Regions from separate parts of the Homo sapiens genome. Here region 2 is linked to region 1. The links come from fine-mapping of genetic effects on gene expression. A gene starts in region 1. The other region holds a variant in brackets. All regions are shown on one strand. Distances are from middle to middle.

Evidence for each region.
Region 2: its variant is fine-mapped to the expression of PLIN4 in whole blood (TOPMed, PIP above 0.99).

The regions. Positions count from the first base shown.
Region 1 is chr19:4,515,971-4,521,332 of GRCh38, forward strand. It overlaps PLIN4 (perilipin 4), which reads right to left and starts at 2,516. Exons shown (of 8, transcript NM_001367868.2): 1 at 2,415-2,516; 2 at 2,252-2,319; 3 at 1,584-1,728; 4 at 647-708. The coding sequence starts at 2,302.
Region 2 is chr19:4,539,560-4,544,921 of GRCh38, forward strand. LRG1 (leucine rich alpha-2-glycoprotein 1) reads right to left here and starts at 477. Exons shown (of 2, transcript NM_052972.3): 1 at 423-477. The coding sequence starts at 454. SEMA6B (semaphorin 6B) reads right to left here. Exons shown (of 17, transcript NM_032108.4): 17 at 3,034-4,970. The coding sequence ends at 4,042. The variant GAGGA/G (reference allele first, on the strand shown) is at 2,132.

The DNA of each region.
Region 1 (5,362 bases):
TGCTGATTAAAACAGATCCTCTTGCCAGGCGCAGTGGCTAATGCCTGTAATCCCAGCACTTTGGGAGGCTGAGGTGGGTGGATCACTTGAGGTCAGGAGTTGGAGACCAGCCTGGTGAAACCAACATGGTGAAACCCCGTATCTACTAAAAATACAAAAATTAGCTGGGCATGGCGGTGAGCACTTGTAGTCCCAGCTACTCAGGAGGTTGAGGCAGGAGAATCGCTTGAACCTGGGAGGCAGAGGTTGCAGTGAACTGAGATTGTGCCACTGCACTCCAGCCTGGGTGAAACAGCAAAACTGCATCTCAAAAAATAAAAGTAGAAGAAATAAAGTGCTTACGCTGCTGTCGCTTTGGTCTCATCTTGCCAGGCACAGCCCTGTGTAGACTGGAACCTTACGTGATTAGAGTGGGGTAGCACTGCACCCATTTCACAGATGTGGAAATAGAGGCTCAGAGGGGAAGCTCCGCCTGGGATCCCCAGGCTGTCTGCCTTCCCTCAGGCCCACAGCAGCCCCCCAGATAGCAGGAACTGAAATGTCCCAGGAGGGAGCAGCCCCCCAGATAGCAGGAACTGAAATGTCGCAGGAGGGGGCACCCCCAGGGCTCCTGCCACATCAGACCCTGCCCTGCACATCCTCTCACCTTTTCCGAAGGTTGCAGCTCCTTCTCCGTCCATGGGGCCGTCTGCTCTGGGTGGGCAGCCACTGTGGGGACAGGGGCCGGTCAGGGAGAGTGAGGGATGCAGTTAGAACCATCTACCCGGCTGCCCATTGCACAATAGCCAGGCACAGCCTAAAAGGTCAGGAATGTTTCAGCTACCCCGCCAGGGACAGCAGGAGGTGACATCCACGGCTACCAGCCAGACCTGGTCACCCCCCAACCCCGCTGGGGGCTCCCCCCAAGCCCAGGGCCGCTGTTCCCTGAAGTAGGGCTCTGTGGAACTTCCTCTGCTGGGTGGACACCCACCCTGAGTCCCGGGGTTCATATAGCCTGGCATGGGGGAACAGCCCCTTGCCCAGCCCGCCCCGCCCCCACCGCAGCTGCCTGCTGCCTATTGCCAGGCCAAGGCATGTGGAGCAGAAGTCAGCTGCCTGGGGCTCTGGGCCCAGAGGGAGGCCCAGCTCAGGCGGCTGCCCCAACCCTGGGTTCCCTGTCACCGTCCCTGATCGCCCAAGCTGAGCCACAGGAGGCTGGGGAGCCCCTGGGCTGTGTGACCCCAGGGGAGCTGTTGCTCCTCCCTGGGAGTCTGGATCTCACTCTGATGAGCTCAGATGGGCAGAGCACCCAGCCTGGGCCATGGTGCATCAGAAACGGAGTGCAGGGTGGGGGAACGGCCGAGGGACTGAGTGGGGGGGCATTGCAGGGAGACAGGCTGGGTTGAAAGCCACCTTCGGCCACTCACCCCCCATATTTATGCCTCAGTTTCCCCATCCACCACAAGATGTCCTAGTGTCTGATGAGAGCACACAGACAAATATGGAGGACTCCCCAAATGGCTGGAAGTCCCTGCCCGGGGAGCTCCTTCTCCCAGGTCCATGTGTAGAGTCCCCCCACGCCCCCAGCTGGGCCAGCCACTCACCCTGAGCCTGTGGTTGGGCAGCCTCGGCAGCAGGCGCTCCTGTGGGGTCAGCGGCCGGCCGGGCTCTCGCCGAGCTATGTGCGTTGGCCACCAGGTTCCGGGCAGAGCTGAAGCCAGGCAGGGACCCAAAGAAGCTGCCCAGGGTCTGCATGGGGGCGGGGGGTGTGCAGGATGAGCAGGCCAAGCCTCGGCAGGAACGGGTCAGAGGAAGCATCGATTGATCAGCCCAATGCCGCCCCGGCCCCTTGCTCCTGGGTGACCTCAGGAAAGTGTTTCAGCCACTCAGCCTCAATTTCCACACCTGGGCAATGGGCAGACTCAGCCTGCCTCCCATGCACAGAGGAAAAGATCGTCTACCCGATCTCCAAAGACCTTTTCCTTCCAGGATCCCCACTGCACAGATGGGGAAACTGAGGCTCAGAGAGGGGCGGAGCTGAGGCCGGCCCAAGGTCACTTGCTGGGGAAGGTGTCGAGGTCTGCGTGGGTCCCCCGCCTCCAGCTTGGGTCAGAAAGGAAGGGATTGGCATCATGGCTCCCAGACCGCCCCCACCAGCCCACCAGGGAAGCACCTCTCCAGATTCGAGACCCCAGGACTGTGGAGGTCACCTTCCCCGGCTCTGGGGCATCTCCAGGCCCCAGCAAGAATCTGCCCCATTTCCCCTCTTTACCTTGCCCTTCGGTTTGGGGGGATCCCGTCTCCCTTCGTCTGGAGCAGACATAGTGAGAACGTGAGAAGCTGGAAGGGGGCAGAGAAGGTGCGTGAATGGGGGTTCCCTAGCCTCCCATCCCACACCCACTCCCCACTGAAAGCCTGAGCAGCCCGACACCCACCTGCAGGCCTGGCCTCACCCTGGTGTCACCGAAGCAGACGCGGCCCCGCTCACCTGGACTGCGCGGGGTCCCCTGGAGGACGGACCGGCCCGGCTGGCAGCTGGCTCTACCCTCAGCTCCCTGGCCTTATAGGGTCCGGGGCAGGCGCAGGCCCAGCCAGCAGCGGCAGGCGGCCAATGGGCCCGGGGGAGGTGGCCTGGACGGTCACATGGCTACCTGCCCAGCCCAGCATGGGCCCAGGCCCAGCACCTTTCCCCTGTTTCCTGCCCACAGCTTGCATCAGGCTGAGTGGCTCACAGGCCAGATGGGCTCCCCTCCCGGGCCCCTGAGCCTCCAGTTCCATCCACGAGGTGGGTGTAGTTCAAATCTCTGCTGCACCAGGATGCCTTGGCCAGTTACCATCTTTTTGCTTCAGGTTTCTCTCTCGTACTCCGCACCACGTCCCGTAACATCCAGCTTCTTCTCTGCTCTCATCTCCCCCAGCTTCCTCCTTCGCTTGCTTCATCCCAGCCACACAGGCCTCCTCGCTATGCCTCCAGCGCACCTGGCACGGTCCTGCCTTAGGGCCTCTGCACGGGCTGTGCCCTCTGCCTGGAACACCTTCCCTGCAGGTTCCCACAGGGCACCCTCTTCCGCCCACAGAACAGTGCCTGGCATACATTTGGCGCTTAATACACGTTTGGCTCAATGGAGCAACACAGAGAGTGGTTGTGAGCCTCTGTGAGATGAGGTCATGCACTGAACAAATGCTGCCTTCGCGTTACCCAGGCAGAAGCGGGGTCTCGGGGTCTCGGCAAGGAGCAGGGGGTGTCCTCAGTGTGGAGGGGAGCCCATCACTCTCCGGAAGGGACTTGGGCCAAAACGCAGACCAAGATGGAGCACCAGCCAAGCTGGGGGCACCCTAGGAGTGGAAACCCAGCCTGGGGGGCTTGGGCCAACCCAGGGAGGCTCCCTGGAGGAGGCGTCCTGTTCCAGAAGTGGTGAGGATGGGATTCAAACCCAGACCCTCCTGTTCCAGGAAGTGGTGAGGACGGGATTCAAACCCAGACCCAGGACCTTCGTGCTGAGCCCAGCCTATGTGCTGGGCTGTCTGTGGGTGGGTGGGCAGAGGAATGGCCGTAACGCCCACCCTGGGCTGTGTCCCCCTCCTACCTGCCCCTGAGACAGGGTTCCTAGCCCTGTGTTATTGGGGGTGAGAGGGCAGACCCCATGGGTGGCTCTGGGCACTGGGCTGGGAGGAGGGAGGGTACAGCCACAGGATCTGATGATTCCCAGGCCGTCTGTCTCCTTGGAGCCGACACTGTGTTTGCCAAACAGTGGGGGAACAGAAGGGGGGGTGTCCCCCAACCTCTTCTACCAGCCAGTGCTTCCCAAGGGTGGCTGGGAGAGCTCTGGGTGCCCCTCCCCTTCCCAAAGGGCAGCCACAGCCCAGTGTGTGGAGAGAAAAAATTAAAAAGTGATCATAAACATCCCAGCCAGGATCTACCCCTCCTCTGCCCAGCACCCTCCATGGCTCCCACCTTCTCCGGGGTGGGAGCCCAGGGTCAAAGCCCAAGTCCCCTTCCTGCAGCCCGGTAGGCCCTGCATAACCTGCCTCGTCTGCTCCCCACCTTCCTCTCCTTCTTCTCTTCACTCTGCTCCAGCCACACGGGCCTTTTCACTGTTCCCATAACATGCCAGGACAGAGTCCCTCAAAGACACACGTGACTGTGCCTGCTTAGCCCCGCACACCCTTCCTCAGGGCTTTCGTGTGGGTTGTTGCTTTTGCCTCCAGCACCCTTTCCCACATCCCTCACCTCCTTCCAGGTCTTTCCTCAAATATCACTTCCTCAAAGAGGCATTCCTGGATCTCCTCTCCCTTTAAAAAATATATACCTCAGGCCAGGTGCCATGGCTCACCCTGTAACCCCAGCATTTAGGGAGACCGAGGCAGGAGGATTGGCTTGAGCACAGGAGTTTGAGACCAGCCTGGGCGACAGAGCGCCACCCCGCCTCAAAAGAACAAAAGAAAAAAAAAAAAAAATAAATAAAAAAAATATATTTTATATATATATATTTCTGTTGAGGCGGGGTCGCGCTCTGTCGCCCAGGCTGGAGTACAGTGGTGCGATCTCGGCTCACTGCAAGCTCTGCCTCCCGGGTTCATGCCATTCTCCTGCCTCAGCCTCCCGAGTAGCTGGGACTACAGGCACTCGCCACCACACCCAGCTAATTTTTTGTATTTTTAGTAGAGACAGGGTTTCACTGTGCTAGGCAGGATGGTCTCGATCTCCTGACCTCGTGATCCACCTGCCTCGGCCTCCCAAAGCGCTGGGGTTACAGGCATGAGCCACTGTGCCCGGCTGCCCAAAATATATCTTTAAATAAAAATTAAATGAATTAATGGGCCAGGCGCGGTGACTCATGCCTGTAATCCCAGCATCTTGGGAGGCCGAGGCAGGTGGATCACCTGAGGTCAGGGTTCGAGACCAGCCTGGCCAACATGGCAAAACCCTATCTCTACTAAAAATACAAAAATCAGCTGTGTGTGGTGGCGCACGCCTGTAATCCCAGCTACTCGGGAGGCTGAGGCAGGAGAATCACTTGAACCTGGGAGGTGGAGGTTGCAGTGAGCCAAGATCGCGCCACTGCACTCCAGCCTGGGTGACAGAGTGAGACTCCTTCCCCACCCCCCCAAAGAAAAGAAAAGAAAAGAAAAATCCCAGGGCTTAGCTCAACCCATTCTCTTTTCCTCACCTCTGCTGCAGTGAAACTGATTTCCCTACTGCTGTGCCTTTCCCTAAGCTGTTCCCTCTGCCAAAATGCCTACCCCTATGTGCTGTTCTGATCATCCTCAACAGGCCTGGCCCTGCCAGGAGCCCCCAGCCTCATGTGGGAAGAGAGAGCAAGGCTGCCTGTGGCTATAAAGTCAAGGTGGAAAGGGCAAGAAACCTTGAGAAGGTGGCCTG
Region 2 (5,362 bases), 24 kb after region 1:
GCCTCTGAACATGAAAAGTGTGTCCTGCTTTGGCCAGGTCTGAGGGTGGGCATTTGGCCTTGGGAAGCGGTGGTTTACACTTAGCACCACAACCCTTGGAAGCCTGGGGCTTCCCCTCCTCCTCCAGGGCTTCCCTGGCCCGGCAGCCATCAGACATGATCTCGACAGCCTTGGTCACTGTGGCCCCAGGCCTCTAACAAGAAGCCTCCCCCGGCTCCCTGCTGCCCATGCCCACCTGGGCTTCTGTAGGGGTGTGTGTGTGTGTGCACGCGCCAGTCTTTCTGTCACAGATAAGGTTGATCTGTGCCAGCCACCAGGCCTGTATCTGCTCCCTGTGACTTCTATGGGTTAGCTGGAATGTCCTGTATCTCCGCATGGTCTGGCGTTCAAACCTGCCTAGGACAGGTAGTGTGGGGACCTACCTTTTTGGTCGCTGTCTGCTCCAAGAGGACATGGTAGCTCTGCTCTTTTGCTTCTGGGTTGTCCTGGCCTGCGGAGGTGGCCTTATACCTGCCTGGACTGGGGGCAGGGGAACCAACCCTGGGGAAGTCCCCACCCCCGTCCAGTTCCTGATAGGGGCTGAGCCTAAGCCAGGCAGGGGAAGGGGAGGGGTCAGGATTACAAAATTGCTTCCTGGAAATTGTTTCCTGTTCAACCCCTTTTTGACCCTGCTTCTAGAACACAGGTTTTTCTTTCCTTGCTTCCTGATTTTTGGGGGGCATCCAAGAGTCTCTCTAGTTGCATCCTCACTTCCCCCAACCCGGAGTTCAAGGGTCAAGGTTTGCAAGGCACTATTCCTGGAGACAGGGACAGCTCTCTGAGCAAGAGGAGGGATTTACCATAAACTTGAGCAACCCAGAAGCTCACTGAAAAGAACAAAAAAACTCGTCTTGATTTCATGGTATGTTGATATTGCTTTTTTTAAAAGAAGTCATTTTAAAAATACAGTCCAATAGTGAGTAATGCCAAACGTCTCTACGGTCCTTAGACAGTGGCTTGGGAGGAACCAAACCTGGTTCTGAATTCCAGCTCTGTCATGAACACCTTTGCTTTGTGACCTTTGGCAAGTGACTTAACTTTTCTTGGCCTCAGTTTCCCCATCTATGAAGCTGAACTCAAATCTCCAAGGGCTCCTTCTGCCCTTTTTTCTCTTCATCTGAATCTGACATCCATGCTATTGTTTCCATTCTTCCTCATTTCCTATTAAATGCGTTTGGAGGCTACAAATTTCCCTTTGAGAACAGCTTTGGCTGCATCTCATGGACTTGGCTGCAGAGTGCTTGCATTCTTGTTGAGTTCTAAATATTTAGGTATGATGGTGTCACCTTTATCTGCAGCTATGACTATTTTTTTTTTCTTTTTTTTTTTGAGACAGAGTCTTGCACTGTTGCCTAGGCTGGAGTGCAGTGGCGTGATCTCCACTCACTGCAAGCTCCGCCTCCCGGGTTCACGCCATTCTCCCACCTCAGCCTCCCGAGTAGCTGGGACTACAGGCATGCACCAGCGTGCCTGGTTAATTTTTATATTTTTAATAGAGACAGGATTTTGCCATGTGGCCCAGGCTGGTCTTGAACTCCTGAGCTCATGTGATCCACTGGCCTCGGCCTCCTAAACTGCTAAAATTACAGGTGTGAGCCACCATGCCCCGTCATTTTTTTTTTTTTTTGAGACAGCATTTTGCTCTGTTACCCAGCTTGGAGCAGTGTGGTGCAATCATAGCTAACTGTAGCTTTGACCATGGGTCCAAGGCCTCCCAAGTAGCTGGGACTACGGGCACGTGCCACCATGCCTGGCTAATTTTTTTTGAGATGGAGTCTCCCTCTGCCACCCATGCTGGAGTGCAGTGATGCAATTTCGGCTCACTGCAAGCTCCACCTCCTGGGTTCAAACGATTCTCCTGCCTCAGCCTCCCGAGTAGCTGGGAATACAGGCACATGCTACCATGCCTGGCTAATTTAAAAAATTCTTTTGTATGTTACCTAGGCTGGTCTCAAACTCCTGGGCTCAAGGAATCTTCTCAGTCTCTCAAAGTGCTGGGGTTATAGACGTGAGCCACTGCACTCCGTCAGTCTTGTGCCCTGCCCAGTCTCCGGAGCCCAGCCGTTAGTTGGTCTTAATCAACATGGACTGA[GAGGA/G]AGGAAGGCTTGTGAAATGTAGTGACACAGTAACAAAACGATCCATTAAAATGAAATGAGATCACATCCCTGCTTAAAACTCTCTGATGGCTTCTTGTCCCACTTAAAACAAAATTCATAAGGCTGGCCAGGCGCAGTGGCTCACGCCTGTAATCCCAGCATTTTGGGAGGCCGAGGCAAGCGGATCACCTGAGTTCAGGAGTTCGAGACCAGCCTGACCAATATGATGAAACCCCGTCTGTACTAAAAATACAAAAATTAGCGGGGCGTGGTGGCGGGTGCCTGTAGTCCCAGCTACTGGAGAGGCTGAGACAGGAGAATTGCTTGCACCCAGGAGGCATAGGTTGCAGTGAGCCGAGATCGCGCCACTATACTCCAGCCTGGGTGACAAAGTGAGACTCTGTCTCAAAAAAAGAAAAAGAAAAAGAAAAAGAAACTGGCTCCTATGCAGATGAAGATGGGGACCCCGAAGTCTCCATGTTTCCACACTCAGCTCCCCAGATTTGTTTTGACCCAGCCTTTTTTTTTTTTTTTTTTTTGAGACAGCGTCTCGCTCTGTCACCCAGGCTGTAGTGCAGTGGTGTGATCTCAGCTCACTGCAACCTCTGACTCTCAGATTCAAGCTATTCTTCTGCCTCAGTCGGCCGAGTAGCTGGAATTACAGGAACCCGCCACCAAGCCTGGCTGATTTTTTGTATTTTTAGTAGAGACGGGGTTTTGCCATGTTGGCCAGGCTAGTCTCGAACTCTTGACCTCAAGTGATCTGCACACCTCGGCCTCCCAAAGTGCCGGGATTACAGGCGTGAGCCACCGCGCCCGGCCTGGCCTTGACTTTTGAGGGTGCCCCCACCCGTGCCACCCCCAGGAGGCAGAGCAGAGCCAGAGTCATGGGGGCCGGTGGTTGTAAACAGAGTTTTATTGATGGGGAGGGGGCTGGGGGAGGCAAACTCCAGAGAGGGCAGAGGACCCAGCCAGCCACGTGGCATGCATGGTCAGCTGGAGGTCAGAGGGGGGAGGTCACAAGGGGACGGGTGGCATGGGACTCTCTCACCACCCTGGGGCCGTATTTACAGAGGGGCCCCACCCACCTTCGCCGCCCCCCAGGCCCCCAAGCCCTTTAGACAGCTGCTGCCGATGTGACTTCCGGGCAGGCCCTCCTCGTGTCTCCTGCCTGAAACCCCGGCATTGTCCCCGCTTCCCTCTGCAGAGTGGGGGGGGTTCAAACTCCTAACCGGCACCTCGGAGACCCCCGGGCCTTCTGGAAGCCCCAGCGTCGGCTCAGCCAACGCCCAGGCCGCTGGGGCCACCACGATCGTCGCTCGTGGACACACACCCTGCACGCGTGGCCCACTTGACACACACGCCCACAGCAGCCTTCGCTGGCACGCACACACACGCCCACCTCCCCGGCCCCTTGCACACGAACACGGCACGCACACGCACGCACACCCACACACGCCAGGGGCCTGGGTTGGGGAGGGACCTTTCCAGGGGTGGGGGAGGGCTTAGGTCTGCAGCTGTGGCCCCCCATTCCCCACCGGCGTCCAAGCCTCCCCTGCCTGCCGCCACCCCGAGAACGGAGTTGTGCAATTGGTTAGAAAACCGCAAAAGAAACCAAAACTGCAAAAAAAACCAAAACCTACGCGCATAAGGTCAACCTCAAATCCATAGCAAAGTCCTCCCGCCCACCCACCCCCAAACCGTCTCAGCGTCCTGCGGCCCCGGGTAGGGGGAGGGCGAGCTGGTTGTGCTTCCTTGTGGCGGAGGGGGCCCCCCACTCCGCGGGTGGGTCGCGGGGGGGACTTGAGCACCCACTCGGAGTTGCCCCGGGCCCCGGCGTTCTGGCACCGTCTCTCGCTCCTGGTTCCCGTGGCTGGCACTGCCAAGGCATCGGGGGGCCCCCGGCCTAGGGCACGGGGGGCGCAGTCCTGTCCGCCCCCCCATAGGGGAGGAGGTGGGCCAAGTCTGTGCCCGGCCGGGCGTGGCAGCCGCGGTGGCGGTCCCCAGGCCGGGCCTCGCCGCTGTTGAACGTGTGGGTGCGGCGCAGGGTGGCGGCCGGAGGGGCGTGGGGGCCCAGTGGCCTCCTCAGGCTGCCCGTCGGGGGCGGGCTCCAGGGCCGCGGGAGGCCATCGGCGGCTGAGGCTGGGTCCAAGGGGCCCGTGGGCGCGGACACCACCCGCCGGCGGTCCGGGCTGGCGTGGGGGGTGAGCGGGAAGTCGCCGTGGGAGGCGCGGCCGGGCCGGGCAGCATAGAGGCGGCCGTCGGGGGTCGGCTCCCCAGGCGCGGGGGGCTGCTCGGGGGCCCGGGCGGGCGCCAGCAGCAGGAGGGAGGATGAAGCGGAGGCCGGGAGCAGGGGGTGGCCGTGGTCCCAGGCGCGGGGGCCCAGGGCGTGGGGGTGCGGGTGCGGAGTGGGCAGGCGCTTCTGCGGCAGCGGCGTCTGCTCGGGCGTGGGCAGCAGCCCCGAGTCCAGGTCGTGGGGCCCGCCCTGCAGCAGCGTGGCCTTGGCCCAGCCGTTCTGCATCAGGGGCGCCAGCAGGGCCTCCGGGGGAACCCCGGCGCCACCGCCACCGCCTCCGCCCCGGCCCCCGGGACCCTGCGCCCTGCGCTCGCCCAGGCGGCTGACGCTCAGCACCGCCTCGCCCGCCCCGTGCGCCAGGATGGCCTCCTTGTCCTTGCGCCGGGCCAGCTCCCGCCGCTCACGGAGGCCCACGAACCAGCCCACGCTGAAGCCGGACACCACGGCTCCCACCACGAAGGCCGCCACCGACGACGTTACCAGCAGGTTCACCGACACCAGCCCCGCGCGGTCCTCGGAGAGGCTGGCCCGCAGGAGTCCTGGCCGGGGAGCACAGGGGGGTTAGTGGGGCCGGCGGGGTGGCCCTGGGCATCCCTCCTACCTCCTCGGGGCCCTCTGTCCTCTTTTTTATTATTTTTATTTTTTTTTATTTATTTATTTTTTGAGAAGGAGTCTTCCTTTGTGTGCCAGGCTGGAGTGCAGTGGGGCGATCTCGATTCACTGCAACCTCCGCCTCCCATGTTCAAGTGATTCTCCTGCCTCAGCCTCCCGAGTAGCTGGGACCACAGGTGCCCACCACCACGCCCGGCTAATTTTTGTATTTTTAGTAGGATGGGGTTTCACCACGTTGGCCAGGCTGGTCTGAACTCCTGACCTTGTGATCCGCCCACCTCTGCCTCCCAAAGTGCTGGGATTACAGGCATAAGCCACC